2 separate regions of the Homo sapiens genome follow, and region 2 is linked to region 1. Evidence: fine-mapped expression QTL. A gene starts in region 1. The other region holds a variant in brackets. All regions are shown on one strand. Distances are from middle to middle.

Evidence for each region.
Region 2: its variant is fine-mapped to the expression of TEKT5 in thyroid (GTEx, PIP 0.95). The same link has a PIP of 0.9 or more in blood mononuclear cells.

The regions. Positions count from the first base shown.
Region 1 is chr16:10,692,235-10,697,548 of GRCh38, forward strand. TEKT5 (tektin 5) reads right to left here and starts at 2,696. Exons shown (of 7, transcript NM_144674.2): 1 at 2,076-2,696. The coding sequence starts at 2,639. LOC105371079 (a long non-coding RNA gene) reads left to right here. Exons shown (of 2, transcript NR_188625.1): 2 at 384-739.
Region 2 is chr16:10,730,608-10,735,991 of GRCh38, forward strand. No RefSeq gene overlaps it. Among named protein-coding and RNA genes, the nearest start is that of NUBP1, 11 kb to the right of the region's middle. The variant CACTT/C (reference allele first, on the strand shown) is at 2,601.

The sequences.
Region 1 (5,314 bases):
GGTCTGGGATACTGCTGTAGGGCTCTGAAAAGCTGCCCTGCCCATCATTCTTCCCAGGGAGAATCTGGGGTTGTATAGAATCTGCTCCCTGCATTCCATGGATTTGGACATCCTAGAGTGATAGAAACCTATGCCATGTCTCCCAGGGAGATCCGGAGGCAGGATCTCTCCTACGGAAGCCCCTGTAGCTGCAGGAGGCTTCCAGGCAAGAGGTCCTGAGTTCCCCACACACTCCAGGGAGCAGCCGATCATCTTCCTCTGTGGCCAAAGTCAGTTCCCATAGGTGCTGCTGGTTCCTTACCCAGTGTCCACTCAACCCCTTCCATGATTTTCTCCTGGACGTGGTGAGAAACATTCACTTATCCAGACCCCTTTGCATCCAGGGTCCATGAGAGTGCTGGCTAATAGGCTAAACATGGAGACACACGACGGACCTTCTAGAAAAGACATTCCCTGATAAAAAGCAATGGTGCCCATTGATGCTTCTGCTCTTTGTTCTACCCTTGCCTTCCTGCCTCGAATGAGAATATCAAGAGGCCCCTGGCATGCAGGAACTTGCAGTATAAAATGCAAAACCTCCTTGGGAACAGGAGAACACAAACCACATGCTGTGGGTGGCAGAACAGAGAGAGGAGCCTGGGTCCCTTCTGGCACCAAGTTGAGGCTGGAGCCGCCTGATCTGTCTCCCTCTGGAATTTTCCTCATGACAGAAAAATAAATTCCTGTTTGGCTAAACCACTATCGTGGAGTATTTGTTACATGCGGCTAAAAACTATCCTAACTGAGCAGGGAGACAACTGGAGGCTAGGAGACCAAGGAAGTGTTAGGAATGTCCACATTTAGTTTTTGTTTGTTGTTTGTTTGTTTGTTTTGTTTTTTGAGATGGAGTCTTGCTTTGTGGCACAGGCTGGAGTGCAGTGGCGCAATCTCAGCTCACTGCAACCTCCGCCTCCTGGGTTCAAGAGATTCTTATGCTTCAGCCTCCCAAGTAGCTGGGATTACAGACATGTGCCACCATACCCAGCTAATTTTGTATTTTTAGTAGAAATGGGGTTTCATCATGTTGACCAGGCTGGTCTCAAACTCCTGACCTCAGGTGATCCACCTGCCCTGGCCTCACAAAGTGCTGGGATTACAGGTGTAAGCCACTGTGCCCAGTCACATTTAGATATTTACTCATTTATTCAGCATGTATTTATTGAATGCCTACTCTGTGCTTCGCCCTGTCCTAGGCTGGGAATACATTCAAAACATTAGTGTAAACAATACCAGTCAGCACCGACATTGGTCACTACGGACCCACACAGACATACAGGTGCCCTGCACTGAATAGCAGTCTTGAATACATCAGTGACAAAGCAGGCAAAAATCTCTACCTTGATGGAGACTATACTGTATTCTAATATTCAATCAAGTATAGAGCATGTTAAATGATAAGTATTACGGGGAAAAATAAGGCAGTTATGGGCCAGGCACAGTGGCCCATGCCTGCAATCCCAGCACTCTAGGAGGTCAAGGCGGGAAGATCAGATCGAGACCAGCCTGGCCAACATAGCAAAACCCTGTCTTCACTAAAAATACAAAAATTAGCTGGCCATGGTGGCGGGCACCTGTAATCCCAGCTCCTCAGGAGGCTGAGGCACGAGAGTCGCTTGAACCCAGGAGGCGGAAGTCGCAGCGAGCCAAGATCGAGCCACTGCACTCCAGCTTGGGTGACAGAGGGAGACTCTGTGTAAAAAATAAATAAATAAGTCAGTTATTTTAAGCATGTGCTTTAAGGACCAGAACACACACATGCTCAGGCATGCATAAGTATGCACACAATATTTTCATGAAACCCCTGCAACTTTGATGTAGCTTCAAGGAGAAAAGGAAATTCTATTCAGTCCAAGAAACCCTGATTTGACTGGGATTATCCTGAATTGACTAAGATTGTATTACTGATCGTATTCGATGATGCAGCTCAAACCGACCTGCAAGGTGCCTGCCACCTTCATCTTCAGTCAAGGGAAGCAGAATGAGCGTGCAGTATCCCCAGGACACAGCCACAGCCCTGTCCCCACCCCTGTACTCACCTGCAATGGGCAGTTCACCTCATTGGCCGCGCACTCCAGCCGCCTCTTGACCGTCTCCAAGTTCTGGTTCTCAGTCAGAAGCCTGTCCAGCTCATAGCTCAGCTCTGACTTCCAGAAGCCAATGTCCGACAGCCTCTGGCCCAGGTTCCGGCAGGTGCCCTCCTGCATCTGGTGCGTCAGCTGGTCCTTGTCCTGCAAGAGCCTCATGGAGTCATCCGTCAGCCGGCTGGCCCACAGCCGGGAGGCCTCGGCCCCACGCACCTGCAGCTGGTTGGACTGGTCCCAGTCGTGGGGGCTATAGCGAGAGAAGAGTGCGGAGCGCAGTGTGGGCAGGATGGTGGGCGGCCGCAGGGTACTGGTGCTCTCGTCCGGGCAGGTCTGGACGTTGGCTATCTTGTAGAAGAGGCTAGGCCTCCATGAATTGAGGTAGCGGTACCCGGGCAGGTAGTAGGGCTGATAGCATTCCTGGATCACTGGCGCCTGTACAGCTGGCAGTGAGGTCAAGCCACAGCATTTCTTGGGACCACAGTAACTGGCGGTCTGAGTAGTCCCAAGAAACTCCATCCTCCCTCATGAGCCCCACTCGGGCAAAACTCAGCTCAAGGAGCCAAAGGCATCACCAGGAAAGGTGAAAGTGCTTCTCTTGGGGACTAGCAGAACCTCTATGACTCAGCACTGGTGTCATAAAGCCTGGGGAGAGGGACTCTTAGCGGGGCCTTTGCTCACTTACAGGCCAGCTGCAGCCATATTGTCCAAAACAAAAAGACAAAAACAATAATCAGCAAAGTGAATGTGAGTTTCATAATCCACAGATTCGGTTGCAAGAAGTGACATTTTATCTTCCTATTACAACTGGGCGGGAGGAAAATTAATGTAGTTTACCCAGTGAATTCATCAGCTCAGGGACAATTTGGTCAAAGCGAGTTGTTTTCTTTCTTTCTTTGTCCCCAACATGGCATCAAAATGGTCCATCTGAGGTGAGGCATGGTAGCTCATGCCTGTCATTTCAGCACCTTGGAAGGCTGTGGCCAGAGGATCACTCAAGTACAGGAGTTACTAGTATAGGAGACTAGTATAGGAGACTAGCCTGGGCAACTTATTGAGACCCCATCTCTACAAAAGAATTTTAAAACGAGCTGGGCACAGTGGCTGGCACCTGTGGTCCCAGCTACTCAGGAGGCTGAGGCAGGAGGATGGCTTGAGTCCAGGAGGTGGAGGCTGCAGTGAGCTGTGATCGCACCACTGCACTCCAGCCTGGGTGGCAGAGCAAGACTGTCTCCAATAAAAAAACAAGGTTCATTGGTACCATGGAATACCACTCAGCAATACTACTCAAAACAGCACAAATGAATCTCAAATTTTAAGCTATGTGGAAGCAGCTAGGCTCAAAAGATGACACTGTGTATTAGTCCATGTATATGACATTCTGGAAAAGACAAATCCATACGGACAGAGGACAGATCAGTGGTTGCCAGGGTCTAGAGGTTGGGGGAGAGTTGTTGGCTCCAAAGGAGCACAAGAAAATCGGGAGGGGCGAGACAGTATGTTCTAGATCTTAATTGTGTTGGTTACACATTTAGTGGAAACCTATAGAAGTTTCCACTAAAAAGAGTAAAATTTACTGTACATCAATTATACTTCAATAAACCTGATTTTTAAAAATAGAGGGAGGGATCTTGAGCATCAGGAGGCAGAGACCACGTCTATTTTGCTCACCATTAAATTCCTGGCATCCAGCACACTATTGAATGAGTGAATGAATGGGTATCTAAAACGAGAGCTTTCTTGTTCCAGAAAAGTTATTAACTCTACATTCTATAACAATTTTTTGTTTTCAGAGAGACAGTCTTGCTCTGTTGCCCAGGCTGGAGTGCAGTTGCATGATCGTAGCTCACTGCAGCCTTAAACCCTTGGGCTCAAGTGATCCTCCTGCCTCAGCCTCCCGAGTAACTGGGACTACAGATGGATGTCATCATGCCTGGCTAATTTTTTTTTTTTTTTGTAGAGATGGGGGTCTCACTATGTTGCCCAGCCTGGTCTCAAACTCCTGGCCTCAAGCGATCGTCCCGTCTTGGCCTCCCAAAGTGCTGGGATTACAGGCACGAGCCCCCCACCCCCACCCTACCACCACCACCCAGCCTATAACAATATTTTAATTACACCAAGAAATTTTCCTCCCTCTTTGGCTGGTGAGAGTAGCAACAAAGTGACAAGGTACAGAACAAGAGGAGTGCTTGATTTGTGGGGCTTCTTTCTGCTGTTGAACTGGGAAAGAGATGAATCTAACTCTCAAATGGTCTTTGTTAGTAGAGTATGATGTTCAATAGCAATTTTCCCCCAATCGCCTAAAATCACGAGTGGGTATGAGAGGACCAAGGCAGCAAAAATGAAGATAAATAACATTTAGTAAGCATCTTCAATGTTCTTGTGCTTTACATAGACTCATTTATTTCATTTCCACAGAAAACCTTTAAGGAAGGCATCACACCCACATCTTCTAGCGTGGGATCAGAAAAGCAAGTGGGCCCTGGTCCTCCCGACGTTCACAACCCTTACCTCTCAGGATCTTCTAAGATGGGACGTCACATACAGGAGGGGACTACACACAGAAGGCAGCCAAGAAATGGACGAAAAAGTTTCGAGTATTTTTTTAAGCACTAAATGGTTATGGTAAAATATTATTTTGGAGGAAGTGTAGGGGGAGGCGAGGGGAAAAAAGGTTTTTTGTGTAACATCAACAAGTATAAAGTGAAATTTAGGGTTTCTCATCATCCTTGGCTTCTTGTAGCCTCCTCAGATATAACTAATATTATCAGATTTTTCCAGAGATAATTCATACATATATAGCATATATCTAGATATTGTCATATATAACACACTATGATATTAATAAAATATCTAAAATATTTATAATAATATCAAGTGTTAACACACAGTGTTACCACACTATGATGTTAACAAATATCTATGATATTTATAATATCTAGTGTTAACACAATGTGATATTAGTAAACTAACACAGCTACAAATTCTAGTGTTAACACACTGTGATATTAATAAAATCTCTATATTTATAATATCTAGTGCTAACACATGGTGTTAACACACAATGATATTAATAAAATCTCTATATTTATAATATCTAGTGTTAACACACTATGATATCAATAAAATGTCTATATTTGTGATATCTAGTGTTAACACACTATTAACAAACTATCTATGATATTTATAATATC
Region 2 (5,384 bases), 38 kb after region 1:
ACAGAAAGAGTAAGGCAGACCAGTATTGGCTGATAAGGAAAGCGTTCATATTAAGTGGCCGGGCACAGTGGCTCACGCCTGTAATCCAGCACTTTGGAAGGCCGACGTGGGTGGATCACTTGAGGCCAGGAGATCGAGACCATCCTGGCTAACACAGTGAAACCCCCGTCTCTACTAAAAAATAGAAAAAATTAGCCTGGCGTGGTGGCTGGCACCTGTAGTCCCCGCTACTCGGGAGGCTGAGGCAGGAGAATGGAGTGAACCTGGGAGGCGGAGCTTGCAGTGGGCCGAGATCGTGCCACTGCACTCCATCCTGGGCGACAAAGCCAGCCTCCATCTCAAAAAAAAAAACAAAAAAAACAGTAAGTCAGACCAGTATTGGCTGATAAGGAAAGATTTTGTATTAGATGGCTGGGCACAGTGGCTCACGCACTTTGGGAGGCTGAGGTGGAAGGATCACTTGAGGCCAAAATGAGACAATATAGTGAGACTCCACCTCTACAAAAAATAAAAAATTTAGCCAGGCATGGTGGCTCACACCTATAGTCCTAACTACTTGGGAGACTGAGGTAGGAGGATCACTTGGGCCCAGGAAGTGGAGGCTGCAAAGGAAGTGGAGGCTACAGTGAGCCATGATCATACCACTGCACTCCAGCCCAGGTGACAAACCAAGACTGTGTCTCAAAAAAAAATAATAAAAGGGTATATTAAGTGAAGAAACCAAGGTATAAAACAGCAAATATAGTGTGATACCACTTAAGCAGATACATATGGAATTGTACACACAAACACTTCTGGGAGGATACACAGGAAACAGTGCCAAAGTGAGAAATCTTTGTGGGCCGGGCAGGTGTGGAGTAGGGGAATGGGGTACAGAAGAAGACTTTTACTTTTCAGTCAAGCCCTTCCATACCATTATTTATATATTTATTCCTCAAAAACATAAAAGCAAACATATATATAACATATGTATGTGTTTAAATATAAATATACATATAACATATATATGTATTTAAATATAAATATACATACATATAACATATATATGTATTTAAATATAAATATACATACATATAACATATATATGTATTTAAATATAAATATACATATATATGTGTATCAATAAAAATCTAATAGATTTCACCTTCTAGACAAGATTGAGTAAACAAGGATTGATCTTACCCTCCTACCTGAAATGACTCCAAAAACACTCAAAAACCATAAAGCAATGGTGTTCCAGACACCGGCCATCAGGTCTTGAAGGATGGTGATCCCCGTGCTGTGGGAAAGAGATGAAGTGTGTCCTATAATTGCCCAGCTGACTGCCTGAGGAAAGTTTCCAGGCGTTGGCACACGAACAGTCCGCCAAAGGGAGTCCATTGACCTTCAAGAGACAGAGCTGGGAAGGAGGAGTGCCGATGTGGCTAGGGTGTGAAGGATGGAGCAGAGGCAGCAGAGGGCCATGCAGAGAATGTCCTGAGATGGGCAGAGGGCTCCCCTAAGTCTTCAGTTGAGCAGGTGCATGCAAGCAAACAACCCCAGGCTGGGGAAAGAACCACCCCGGCCTTAAAGTGAACAATTCCCAGAGCTCATGCAAGGCTGGGTAGTTCCTGATCCCAACAACTGCAATAGAAAATGTCATAATTCATGTAGCATCAAGTCAGATCCCAGAAAGGTTTTACCTCAGTATTAAGGCAAAATGAGCTCTGGACTTATACCACTCTGGTCCCATCTAACAAAACTTTTTTTTTTTAATTTTTCCTTTGAGACAGGGTCTCACTCTGTTGCCCAGGCTGCAGTGCAGTGTCTTGATCTCGGCTCACTGCAACCTCCACCTCCTGGGTTCAAGCAATTCTCCCACGTCAACCTCCCAAGTAGCTGGGATTACAGGCATGTGCCACCACACCTAGCTCATTTTTGTATTTATAGTAGAGACAGGGTTTTCACCATGTTGTCCAGGTTGGTCTCAAACTCCTGGCCTCAAGTGATCCACCCACCTCAGCCTCCCAAAGTGCTGGGATTACAGGTGTGAGCCATGGATTACAGGTGTGAGCCACCGCACCCAGCCCCATCTAGCAAAGCTTAAAAGGAAGTCTCAAAATGATAAAAATGTTTCCAAGTAAATTATCTGTGTCCTAGAAAAAAAAAGATCAAGAATATTTGTAAAAGCACAAACATTTTTAGCACTCTGGCATGCAATTTAAAAAAAAAAAAAAGGCAGTATCCATGCAAAGAGACAAGAAAATATGACCCAAAATGAGGGGAGGAAATCAATCAATTGAAACCAAACCAGAAATAACACAGATAATGGAATTAGTAGATTAGGATATTTTAGGTTATTATAACTGTATTCTATGTGTTCAAGAAACTAGAAAAAAGATTCAGCACATTCAGTCTTAAAAATGAATGATACTTAAAAACAAACAAACAAACAAACAAACAACAACAAAAAAAAAACCTAAGCTGAACTTCTAGAGATGAAAACTATAATGTCTGAGACGCAAAATATTGATCCCATCTTGATGCAAGATGGGATTAAGAACATGTCTTAGCTCAGGCTGCCATAACAAAATAATAGTCTGGGGGGCTTAAACAACAGA[CACTT/C]ACTTTCTCACAGTTCTGGAGGCTGGAAGTCCAAGACCAGGCGCCAGCATGGTTGCGTTCTGGTGAGGACTATCTTCCTGGCTTGCAGACTGGCTTCTTGCTCTGCCCTCACATGGCCTTTTCTTGGTGTGTGCCTATGGAGAGAGAGAAGGCACAATCTCTCTGGTGTCTGTTCTTATAAAAGCACAAAGTTCACTATGAAGACCCCATCCTCATGACCTCATCTAGCTTTAATTACCTCCCAAAGTCCCCATTCCAAATATCATCACATTGGTATTTGGTTTGGGCTTCAACATATGAATCTGGGGGAGGAGGACACAAGCATTCCATTCATAACAATGCAAATTAGACCCTGTAGAAGAAAATATTAGTGAAGTTGAAGACATGGCAATAGAAAGTATCCAAAATAAAACAAAGAGAAAAAAAAAAGACTGAGGAAAAAACTACTAACTGTTGCTGAAAAAAATTTTAAAATAGATAAAATAAAATAGAAATTTAAATAGAAAGATATGTCATACGTGTGGACCAGAAGGCTTCATATTGTTATGATGTCAATTCTTCCTAAATTGATGGACAGACTTAACACAATCCCATTCAAAATCCTAGTAGGCTTTTTTGGTACAAATTAATAAATTAATTGTAATATTTGTATGAAAATGCAAAGACCTAGAATAGCCGAAAACAACTTTGGAAAGAAAAAGTTGGAAGATTTAGGCTCTCTGACTTCAAGCCTTATATATTTTTATTTTTATTTATTTATTTTTTTTTGAGACAGAGTCTTACTCTGTTGCCCAGGCTGTAGTGCAGTGGTATGATCACGGTCAAGTCTTATTATAAAACTACCATATGGTATTGGCATAAAGATAGACAAATAGATCAATGGACAGAATAAAGACTCCAGGCCAGGCGAAGGGGCTCACACTTGTAATCCCAGAACTTCAGGAGGCTGAAGCAGGCTGACTGCTCGAGTCTAGAAGTTCAAGACCAGCCTGGGCAACATAGTGAGACTTTGGCTCAATATATATATGTGTGTATATACATATGCGTATATATGTATGTGTATATATGTGTATATATGAATGTGTATATATATGTGTATATGTGTGTATAGATAGATAGACAGAGAGAGAGAGAGTCCAGAAATGGTCCATTGATTTTTCAATGAAGGTACAAAGTTAATTTTGTGGAGAAAGGCTAGACTTTTCAACCAATGATGTTGGAACAATTGGATATCCAAACAGAAAAAAATGAATTTCAACCCATATTTCACACTACATACCACAATTACCTACAAAAATTTACTCCAAATGGATCAGAGACCTCAATGTAAAGTCTAAAACTATAATATGTCTAGAAGGAAAAACAGGAGAAAATCTTTGTGGCATTGCATTCGGTTAACTCTTTCTTAGATATAATATCAAAAATACAATACATAAAAGAAAAAAATGAACAAATAAAACCTCATCAAAATTAAGAATGGCTCTTCAAAAGACACTTTTAAGAGAATAAAAGGACAAGCTACAGTCTAGGAAAAAACATTTGCCAAACACATTATTGATAAAGGACTTCCAGCTGGGCACAGTGGCTCATGTCTGTAACCCCAGCACTTTGGGAGGCCGAGGCAGGCAGATCACCTGAGGTCAGGAGTTCGAGACCAGCCTGGCCAGCACAGTGAAACCCCATCTCTACTAAAAATACAAACACTAGCCAGGCGTGGTGGCATGCATTTGTGGTCCCAGCTGCTTGGAAGGGCGAGGCAGTCGAGTTGCTTGAACCCAGGAGGCGGAGATTGCAGTGAGCCGAGATCATGCCATTGCACTCCAGCCTGGGCAACAGAGTGAGACTCTGTCTCAAAAAAAAAAAAAAAAAAAAAGACTTCCATCCAGAATATATACATAATATCAAAATTCAATAATAAAACAAATTACCAAATTTTATAAAGTGGACTTGAAGATTTGAATGAACACTCTCAACAAAAAATATGTAATGTCAAGTGAGCACATGAAAAGATGTTCAGGCCGGGCCTGGTGGCTCACAACTGTAACCCAGCACTTTGGGAGGCCGAGGTGGGCAGATCACTTGAGGTCAGGAGTTTGAGACCAGCCTTGCCAACACAGTGAAACCCCATCTCTACTAAAAAACAAAAATTAGCCCGGTGTGGTGGCACATGCCTGTAATCCCAGCTACTCGGGAGGCTGACACATGAGAATCACTTGAACCTGGGGGGCAGAGTTTGCAGTGAGCAGAGATTGGGCCACTGCACTCCAGCCTGGGACAGAGTGAGACTCTGTCTCAAAATAAATAAATAAATAAATAAATAAATAGGAAAAGATGTTTAACACAGTCATTAAAATAATGCAGATTAAAACTACAATAATACAGCAGTATGCATCTATTGAAATATTTAAAATCCAAGGTTGTCTGTAACCTATGCATCTATTGAAATATTTAAAATCCAAGGTTGTCTGTACCCACTGCTGGCAAGAATATGGAGCAGTTAAAAGTCTCATATCCTGCAGGTGAATATGCATAATCACTATGGAAAACAGTTTCGTAGTTTCTTTTTTTTTTTTTTTTTTTGAGACAGAGTCTCGCTCCATTGCCCAGGCTGGAGTGCAGTGGTGCGATCTCGGCTCACTGCAAGCTCAGCCTCCTGGGTTCAAGCGATTCTCCCACCTCAGCCTCCCGAGTAGCTGGGACTACAGGCCACCATGCCCGGCTCATTTTTTGTATTTTTAGTAGATATGGGGGTTTCACTGAGTTAGCCAGGATGGTCTCGA